2 separate regions of the Homo sapiens genome follow, and region 2 is linked to region 1. The links come from fine-mapping of genetic effects on gene expression. A gene starts in region 1. The other region holds a variant in brackets. All regions are shown on one strand. Distances are from middle to middle. Region 1 holds the start of MYO10 (myosin X). Region 2 has its middle 89 kb from the start of MYO10.

Region 1 (5,376 bases):
TAAGAAATGGTAATAAGACTAGATATTCTTAGAAATCTATTGATTTAAAATGCTTCCCAGTCTCTGTCCAATCCTGTCAAAGCCCTTATAAATTTAACACGCTGCTTTTTAACAACTGATTCAACCCCAGATACTTGAGGGTTAGATATCTTATTTAGAACATGCATTTTGCTGTTCAGCAAGTAAGAGTTTCGCTGCCACAGCTTATCTTACACCTTTTTGAGAATATGGGGATATATAGAAAAGCTGATGAATTCTGATAAAGTGGCGATTCCCAAGCTCTGAACTGGTTATCGGGGTGCTTATTAAAATGCAAATTCTTTCAATATAATCCACAGGTAAAGAAATAAAAAATGCAAATTCTTAGGAAATCAATTTGCCACAGAGATTTGGAGTCAGTTTTTTTTTCTTTTTAGCAACTGATAAGGTGATCTAGGGATCAACATTGATAAAACATTGATGTAAGTTTTTTTTTTTAACTTTCTTACCCTGTTAACTGATGATGTAAGCTTTTTGAAGAAATAAAATGATTCAGTAAAATCTAAACTTTATATATTGGATCTGGCTCACCATTCTTTACGTGAGTCAAATTGGGGGCAATTATTAACGATATCTTCATAATTGGCAGGAAAATCACCTTTAAAAGATTAGTAGACTTTAAAAAAACAGTTTTAGGCTTACATAAAAATTGGCCAGAAAGTACAGAGAGTGTCCATAGACCCCTCCCAGCCCCTCACCCTCACTTGCCCCTATTATTAACATGTTGCATTAGTGTGGTACATTTGTTATAACTGATGAGCCGATATGGAAAGTGACTTTTGAAATGACATGGCGAGGTTGCCCAACGTATCAGTGGCTGGGCTGATGCTGGGAACCACGTCACACCCACACACTCACTTCAACAATCTCCCTGGTAATTTCTCTGGCAGAGATGTTGTGTGCAGATTAATACCATAATGACTGTAATTGTTCTGCTCCAGTATCTGAACACCAGTGGTTGCAGGACCCATTTGACTAAGCACTGGGATTGTTGGTATTTATCCTGACTCCATCTTCACTTTCCTTGCGACCTTGGACACAAGCTTTAATGGCTCAGCGCCTTAAGCGTGTAAACCTGTGAAACAGAACAACATTGCACAATATCATTAACTAATTTACACCTTGACTCTTTCTAAAGGGAAGTGAGGTGGGAGCAATGATATTAATGGTGAAGAACTGGACTGGGATAAGTTACAAACATGCTTGACTTTCCCCATAAGGATTACAGAAGGATGTTTCATTCATTCATTCATGCTGTGAGACAGCCTGGGGATACTCATCTTAAAGCACAGTCCTTCCCCAACAGTCTTAGGAATAAATCCTAGAGTGGGCATCTAGCCCAGTGGTTACGGGGAGCTTGGGTGGGGTGAGTGGAGTAGCATCTTTGGGAAGGGTTCCTTCCCCTGGAAGGTGTGACTTTGTGAGCTGAGTTTTAAAGGTTGAGTAGCAGTTGGCAAATTCCCTGGAGAGAGCATCTCAAATCTTTTGTGCTGAAGAACCAGCCATTTTTGTTCCCAGTCGGCCAGGTACCAATACACTGCGGCGCCAGGTGTGACTCACCACGTGAGTCTGACAACACCCAAACTGGTTTATACTCGGTTCAAAGAGTCCACTGATCATGTGCTTGGATGTCGTGGCATTATTAAATTGCTACAAACGTTTACTCTTAATTTCTCTACTTGTTACAAGCTTTCGTTCAGCACAGGACCAGGTAGCACCTGAGGGGCACCTGGAAAGCAGATTGTTCCAGCCTGCGTTCTAACAAGGTTCCCAGGTGACCCTCGCACAGCATAAAGTTAAAAGAACTGCCCTAGGGGAAACGGGACTCAGTGCCAGGTGGGTTTGATCATTCGTCCATCTCAGTGCCATCTGCCATCTCTGCTTCCTTGAGGTCTAGAAAAGGGTTACATTTTTAAAGGTGATATTGGCCACGTCCCCTTCCAGTTTCAAAACTACATTTCCCCGCTGTTACGCAAACGTCTTAAGCAAACCCGACTGCAGGACAGAAAGTCAACACGGGAATGCAGCTTCCAGAAATTCTGATTAGCCTCCGTCTTCCGCTTTGATCTGGCCCCGCAGCCCCGGCAGCTCCGCTGACCGCGCTTCCTTCCCGAGATTGCTAGTCTACCGGGCTGCATTAATGAGATCCGTGTTGAGCCGGTTCCCGGGTCTGCTAAACATGAAAGGCACAGAAGCCCCCAGTCCCTTCTCCTCCCCTCTAAGTGATTGTTTAGTCTCTCTCTGCAGAGGGAAGAGTTAAATCCCCTCCCCACGCCTACGTGGGAAGACCTGGGGAAACACGCGGCCCCCTCCCGGGTCCGCTAACGAGCCTGCGGCTGCTTCGGGCTTAGAGTGGGCGGGGCCTGGTCGGGAAGGGGGCGGGGCGCTCCGCCCGGGCGGGGCCAGACGGTGTGGTTGGCGGAGGGCCAAGCTCCTGGGGGCGGGGCCGCGAGCGGGAGGGCGGGGCCGGCTGCGGGAGGGCGGGGCCGGCTGCGGGAGGGCGGGGCGAGGTCGCTGGGCTGTAGTCCCGCGGGCGAGAGCTGGCTGAGCCGCGGCGCGGGACTGCTCACCTCCAAGCGCTCGCGCGGGGATCGCGGCTCCTGCTCACTTTGCGGCCCGCTGTCCTCCTGCCCGCCCCGAGGGCCCCCGGCCGGAGCGCAGAGGGAGGGGGCCGCGCTCGCCAGCACCCCGCCGCCTTCCCCCGCCTGGGGGAAGAATGTGCCACCAGCTGTTCTCCGCTTGCGAGCGCTGCGCCCAGTAGTGAGGAACTTGGAGGAAGAAGAGACAAAGGCTGCCGTCGGGACGGGCGAGTTAGGGACTTGGGTTTGGGCGAACAAAAGGTGAGAAGGACAAGAAGGGACCGGGCGATGGCAGCAGGGGAGCCCCGCGGGCGCGCGTCCTCGGGAGTGGCGCCGTGACACGCATGGTTTCCCCGGACCCGCGGCGGCGCTGACTTCCGCGAGTCGGAGCGGCACTCGGCGAGTCCGGGACTGCGCTGGAACAATGGATAACTTCTTCACCGAGGTAAGTGCGCTCCCAGTCCGACCTGGCCTCCGGAGCCCAGGGAGAGAGGCGTCTGCCCACCACGCCGCGCGCCCTGGGTACTTTTTCCTAAGCCCTGGAAGGCGCAACTTTCTGGGAGTCTCCTGAAATCACCCCCCATCCCCCCGCGGAGTCTCTGATGAGTAAGCCCGGGCAGGTTTTGTTTCGTCCTGTCCCGCGCTCGCATTTTGCTCCGGGAGGTAGCGAAGGTGCGTTTCCGTTTGCGTGGGTGGCTGGCTCTCGGGGCGCCCTGGGACACCCGCGCCAGGTGAGGCGGCGCGCGCCGGGGCGCGGGCGGGGCGATCCGCCCGCTCGACTGCCCGGGTGCAGGAAGCCCAATAAAATGTTCAGCGGGGACCTGCCTTTCTCCAAGAAAGGTCTTGTCTGGTATTTCCTTTGCAAAACGTGCGGGCTTCCTGTGCAGGGGTTCAAACACTTCCAGAGGAGACGGCTTAATGAAGTGTGAGAAGGAGAGGCAAGGGTTTAATCGGTTACTTTGCTCGCCGAGAAGTGCTCTTTTAAGGCTTGGGATAACTCCAGACCCTGGGATCAAATGATCATGTATTTGTGTAGAGTGTCCATGCAGATTTTGAATTCGAATGTAAAGAAAATTCGTTTAGGGCAAACAGTGGCTATTTTAATAGATGAAACGGATGCCCTCTTTAGGGTCGTTGAGGGTGGGACACTGAAACTTAACTTGAGAACCCTTTTTCCCCCTTTGGGATCGAGACTTACTGTGGTTTCTTGGCTCCCTTTCCTTTCTTGGTTGTGTTTATTTAATAAATTCTGTTTAAGTTTGAGGTTTGAAGTGGCTCAAAGTAAACTTAGTTGACTTGAGAGAGTCTGATGTGATTTTCGTTGAAAGCCAGGGAATGTTTTCTGAGTGCAGAACCGCTTTGGAGTCTTCCAGCAAATCAGATTGATGAGGGCTTGCCTCTGTGTTAGCCGACTTGGTTTATCTGATTTAATTGGATATAATATTTCAAGTCATTCTGCTTTCTGCATGCTCACTGACTGTATTCTCAGACAGCTATTCATACTGGCCAAAGTGATAAATGCATTCTTGTTTAGTAGTCATATCTAGTTTTTAAAAGTGGTGTTTCAGATGTGATACCCACATTCATTGTGGAAGGAAGACTAGAAAGGAATTATCCATCAATACATATTTTTCCTTTTCTTAAAAAAAGTGAAATATATATAATTGTGAGACGCTCGCATTTTCTAGTCCATAGACTTTTGTTTTCATGCTTGTCGAAAGGCACCAGAACTTTCTGCAAGAGTTGCACGTTGTCCAGTGGTAAAGGACCCTCGGGCTACAGTGAGTTCCGGTGTTTAATTGCTTGCATCTGTAAGAAAACGGAGGCCCTGCCCCTAGGGCAATGATTCTTAACTTTGTTGTTTTTGTGTTCTGGGTCCCTTAGAAAATCTGATGAAAATATAGAAATTTGTATTCAGTTTGCACGGATCTCACTCCTCCTGTAGCCTGTCTGAGCACCACAGGGGTCCGTGGCTCCCCCTTGGGGAGAACTCTGCCCCCTAGTGCAAGTGGGGGGAACATCAGGATAACGCGCTACAGCGTCCTGATCTCCTGTTACCCGGTGAGACTTTGACTTTTCAAAGTACTCTTTTCATCTTGCACTGGATACCTTAGTTCAGTGTAAGGGGCCTGGTTGTTGGATTTTATTTCTGTGATCAATATTATTTTGCAGTTGGCCATTAGTGATCTTCTACTTTCTCCTCTTCATTTTGTAGACAGAATCTTAACCCAAAGATATGAGTAAGTCCCTTGCCCAGCTTTGAAGAGCTTGTTCACGAATCCAGAGCCTTTTTCCTTTGCTGCTGGTGACTTTGGTATTTCTGGGAACTTTTCGCTTATTTTAAGGTTATACTTTTAATCTTGTGATGTATGTGTATTACAATATTAACTTCTAATCAGCCGTGAAAGTTCCACCCTTAAATCTAATCACTTTGAGTGGGAAGGAAGCAGGGCCAGTCAGAGAGGTTAAATAGTGAGGTATTAATTGTAGACATACTCTTAACATAGATCCCAGCTCCCCTTTCTCTCTCTCATGTCTTGTAATGGAGCATCCTTTTGTTAAATTGTCCAGTGAAGAAAATGCTGTAATTAATGTCCTGTTAGAATAGAAACAGCGAGTGTGGAAGTGATATATTCCCCAAGGACAGCTAAATTGTTTGGCCTCCTTATCACTAAGTAGAATTCTGTCTTTGCTAACTTTTCCCATTGTGGCTTAGGGGTAAATGACTTGTTGCTTGTTGGACAACAGTTTAAAGCCA
Region 2 (5,376 bases), 89 kb before region 1:
ATGTGGGTTTTCTCTTTAGTTCTGTTTATGTGATGAATCACATTTATCGATTTGTTTATGTTGAACCAACCTTGCATCCCAGGGATAAAGACATCTGAAAAAAAATTTTTTTTTTTGGTTTGTTTGTTTTTGAGACAAAGTCTCGCTCTTTTGCCCAGGCTGGAGTGCAATGGTACGATCTCGGCTCACTGCAACCCCCACCTCCCAGGTTCAAGCTATTCTCCTGCCTGAGCCTCCCGAGTAGCTGGGACTACAGGTGTGTGCCACCATGCCTGGCTAATTTTTGTATTTTTAGTAGAGATGAGATTTCGCCACGTTGGCCAGGATGGTCTGGAACTCTTGATCTTAAGTGATCTGCCCACCTCGGCCTCCCAAAGTGCTGGGATTACAGGCATGAGCCACCGTGGCCCACGTGAAATGTTTTTAAAACATTCTTTTACCTGGGAACATAGATTCAAGTTGCCCTGAATATATACTCCTAAATCTGCAACTTTAACATACATTTGTGCTAGTAAAATATCATTTTAATGATTACTTTTATAAAGTCAAAGTAGGACAAATTAGAGAGTAGTTAATTGTCTCTACTATTCATCGAATAATGATTTATATAACTAAAGAAGAACTATGTGTGCTGAAACCCTCCTTTTCACTGATCAGGATAATTGTACACCACAAACTTGAGCCACAGCTGTTACCCAAAACTGCATTGAAAGTGACCAAGAGGAAACAGGCAGCTCCCTGGTCACAGGCTGAGTGAGCTCTCCTGAGATGTCATCCTAACCCTGGAAGCTCGGTCCATTCGGGAAGTCTTCAAAGCCCCATTAATGAATTCTTAAATGGGAATGATAATAGTGCAATTTTAAAAACAAATGAGGCTAGGGCATGGTGGCTCACGCCTGTAATCCCAACACTTCGGGAGGCCAAGACAGGTGGATCACTGGAGGTCAGGAGTTTGAGACCAGCCTGGCCAACCTGGCAAAACCCCATCTCTATTTCAAATACAAAAAGTAGCTGGGGGTGGCGGCAGGTGCCTGTAACCCCAGCTATAATCCCAGCTACTTGGGAGGCTGAGGCAGGAGAATCACTTGAACCCGGGAGGTGGAGGTTACAGTGAGCCAAGATCATGCCACTGCACTCCAGCCTGGGTGAGAGAGTGAGACTCTGTCTCAAAAAACAAGAAAACAAAACAAAACAAACGAACAAACAAATGAGGAGGGAGGGCTTTGGAATTTAATTTCCAAATGGAAAAGAGAAACTGCGTTCCTCCTTTTTTTCCTTTTTCTTTCTCACTTTCTCTTTCTCTTCTTTCTACTGATTTTTAATTTCTCTGTGGCAACAAGATAAAAGCACATTTACTTAGGATTCTTTAATTTCACTGGGGATTAAAGGGGTTCGCTGGGTAATGGGGGATAATTCATATGGCTCTCTTGTTTTTCATTGCCAGTGCTGTATGATTCGGGGTGATTCTATAAACCAACGTTTGTCATTTAATTTCACCTTGTGCTTAAGTTGGACAGATTAAATAAAGGTAATGTAAAATGGAAATGATGTTGGGGGCTTGTTCCTAGTCTAGAATCAAGGGTGTCCTTGGAAAGAACTTGAAGCCCTGCCTTGTCCTATGGTAGAAGCTTCTGGGGAAAGCATCAAAGGGGCATTTGCTGAAGAGGTGGGGGTGAGGAAAACACCAAATCTCATTGCTCTCAGGAGAAACATAAGGCTCTACTTATCTGATATTGCACTGATCTCACCTGCCTATGGAGGTGGGTTCACAGCCTGACTGTTAAGCCTATTGAATAATCAGGAAAAGGAACCAACAGTGTGAGAATACTGACCTATATGGTGAAGAAATTCAAAGCCCCTCTCTGTACTTCCCCCACCCTAAACCTTCTCCTTTAGGTTGAATTGGGAAAAAAGGTAAATGTACTCCACTCCCAAGCACGTGGGCTGATCTGGGATAAGCCAAATGCTAGGAAATTTTATTGGCCCACATCTTTGTGCTGGAATCTTCCAGGGGGATACAGGTAGCAGTGGGTGTGGATTTTTCATTTCCCTGAGGCTACTTTTTAAATTTTTTTTATTTTTATTATTATACTTTAAGTTGTAGGGTACATGTGCACAACGTGCAGGTTTGTTACATAAGTATACATGTGCCATGTTGGTGTACTGCACCCATTAACTCGTCATTTACATTAGGTATATCTCCTAGTGCTATCCCTCTCCCCTCCCCTCCCCCAACCCCATGACAGGCCCCGGCGTGTGATGTTCCCCACCCTGTGTCCAAGTGTTCTCATTGTTCAATTCCCATCTATGAGTGAGAACATGTGGTGTTTGGTTTTCTGTCCTTGAGATAGTTTGCTCAGAATGATGGGTTTCCAGCCTCATCCATGTCCCTACAAAGGACATGAACTCATCTTTTTTTTCTGGCTGCATAGTATTCCATGGTGTATATGTGCCACATTTTCTTAATCCAGTCTATCATTGACGGACATTTGGGTTGGTTCCAAGTCTTTGCTATTGTGAATAGTGCCCTGAGGCCACTTTTTAAGCAAACTCAGCCTTCTTTTCTGTAACTAGAGAAAACGTCTATGGTAGTTATTTAGCATTCACTATGTAGGGCACTGTTCTTCTCCCATGGCATAGATATCATTATTATCATCCCCATTTTATAAGTAAGGGAATTGAGGCACAAAGAAATGGAGTTGCTAAAAGTTACAGAGCAGTAACGCAGAGCCACGTCATCCCGCTCCTAAGTCGGGGACCCGAACCACTGTGCTATATAGCAGGTCACCATACTTTATTGAAATTACTTTTAAAGTGTTTCTCCAGACCCAGGCACAGTGGCTCACAACTGTTAATTCTAGCATTTTGTGAGGCTGAGGCAGAAAGATCGCCTGAGGCTAGGAGTTCAAGACCAGCCTGGTCAACATAGTGAGACCCCATCTCTTTAAAAAAAAAAAAAAAATGAAAAAGAAAGTGTTTCTCCCAGTAAATTATCATGTCAGCGTCTTTGTCTCTCTTTCACTGCTGAGCCCCAGAAGCCATCAACAGTGATGACTCATCATAGAATGAATAAATAAGGCCTAGAACAGAGACTCCAGGCCTGGGGCAGAAAGTTCCCAGGTTCTCTCTCACCAGCTCCTTTCTGAGCTCCTGAGTTTAAGAGAGTGCTCCTCTTCAAATTAACCAGGGAAGACCAAGGACTCAGCATTGGCCTAGGAATGTGAGCAGAGTGAACATCGCAGCCAGCCTGTGCTCAGGCCTTTCGGGGACACTTAAAGGAGCTCTCCCTCCAGGTCCAGCCAAGCTTCAGGCTGGGAGCACCAAGGCTCCCAGCCTTGTAAACACTGTCAGCCTTGTT[T/C]GGCTGATAGCCGAACTCCGGTGCACACTAAGTGTTTCTCCGTTTTGCAATTCCTTCTTTATTCTCTGCACACATTGCCCCTTCCAGGATCTCATAGTGCTGCACAGGTGGCTGAATTTAAGTGCTCTCATTTCCAGGCCAAAATACCATCTCTTAAGCCTCTTTTAATATTGCTCTTTGAAAATGTCCAACATAACTTCTTTCAAATAAATTTTTCATACCAGTATATATTCACAATAATGAAAACACTCATCACTCCCCTTCCCTAATTAATTTTTTTTCTATAGCGCTTATCACCATGTAATTTTTTTTTTTTTTTTTGAGACAGAGTCTCGCTCTGTCACCCAGCTGGAGTGCAATGGCACGATCTTGGCTCACTGCAACCTCCGCCTCCCAGGTTCAAGCAATTCTCCTGCCTCAGCCTCCCGAGTAGCTGGGATTACAGGCGCCCGCCACCATGTCTGGCTAATTTTTGTATTTTTAGTAGAGACAGTTTTCGCCACGTTGGTCAGGCTGGTCTTGAACTGACCTCGTGATCTGCCCGCCTTGGCCTCCCAAAGTGCTGGGATTACAAGCCTGAAGCACCATGCCTGGCCTTTTTTTTTTTTTTTTTTTCTTGAGACAGAATCTTGCTCTGTCACCTAGGCTGGAGTGCAGTGGCGTGATCTCGCCTCACTGCATGCTCCGCCTCCCGGGTTCACACCATTCTCCTCAGCCTCCTGAGTAGCTGGGACTACAGGCACCCGCCACCACGCCCAGCTAATTTTTTGTATTTTGTTTAGTAGAGATGGGGTTTCACCGTGTTAGCCAGGATGGTCTCGATCTCCTGATCTCGTGATCCTCCCGCCTCGGCCTCCCAAAGTGCTGGGATTACAGGTGTGAGCCACTGCGCCCAGCCTAATTTTTTTATCTTTATAGAGATGTGGTTTCACCATGTTGGCCAGGCTGGTCTCGAACTCCTGACCTCAAGTGATCCTCCCGCCTCGGCCTCCCAAAGTGCTGGGATTACAGGCATGAGCCACTGTGCCTGGCCACCATGTAACATATTATATGCTGTTATATTTAACTTATGTATTAGCTGTCCCCTCCCCCCTGACTAGAATGTGTGTTCTACAGGGGCAGTAGTTTGTGTCTATTTGGTTCATAGCTATATGCTAAGCCTCAGAACAATGTCTGGCACGTAACAGTCATTCCATTACTATTTGGTAAGTGAATGATCTGTGTAAATTATGTAGCATGGCCCTGTGTTCCCTCACTAGTGTTTACAATGTACTACAATATACTTTGTACACTGTTTACTACGCTTAATAAAAGTAAGTTTAAAAAACTAAGATGTTTGGGGAAAATATTTACAAAGATGAGATAGTCCAAGGCAGGAATGGGAGGTGACTACAAACGGGCACAGGGTTTTTAGGGAAGGGACACAAATGTTCTAGACGTGGATTGTGTTGCTAGCTGCACAGGCCTATGAATATATTAAAAACATGAAACTATACACTTCAAGTAGGTTAATTTTATGATACGTGAATTTTTTCTTTTTTTGAGACGGTCTCACTCTGTCACGTGGGGCAATCACGACTCACTGCAGCCTCAATCTCCCAGGCTCAAGTGATCCTCCCATCTCAGCCTTCCGGGTGAGTAGCTGGGACACACCGCCATGCTGGCTATTTTTGCCTTTTTTTTTTTTTTTTTTTTTTGAGACAGAGTTTTGCTCTGTCACCAGCCAGGCTGGAATGCAGTGGCACAATCTCGGCTCACTGCAATCTCTGCCTCCCAGGTTCAGGCGATTCCCCTGCCTCAGCCTCCCAAGTAGCTGGGACTACACGTGTGCACCACCACGACTGACTAATATTTTGTATTTTAGTAGAGACAGGGTTTCACAGTGTTGGCCAGGATGGTCTTGATCTCCTGACCTCGCGATCTGGCAGCCTCGGCCTCCCAAGGTGTTGGGTTTACAGGCGTGAGCCACTGCAACCGGCCTAATTTTTGTATTTTCTGTAGAGATGAGGTTTCACTGT

What was found. PIP is the estimated chance that this variant, and not a neighbour inherited with it, causes the effect.
Region 2: its variant is fine-mapped to the expression of MYO10 in thyroid (GTEx, PIP above 0.99).

The regions. Positions count from the first base shown.
Region 1 is chr5:16,933,475-16,938,850 of GRCh38, reverse strand. It overlaps MYO10 (myosin X), which reads left to right and starts at 2,563. Exons shown (of 41, transcript NM_012334.3): 1 at 2,563-3,063. The coding sequence starts at 3,043.
Region 2 is chr5:17,022,755-17,028,130 of GRCh38, reverse strand. No RefSeq gene overlaps it. Among named protein-coding and RNA genes, the nearest start is that of MYO10, 89 kb to the right of the region's middle. The variant T/C (reference allele first, on the strand shown) is at 3,359.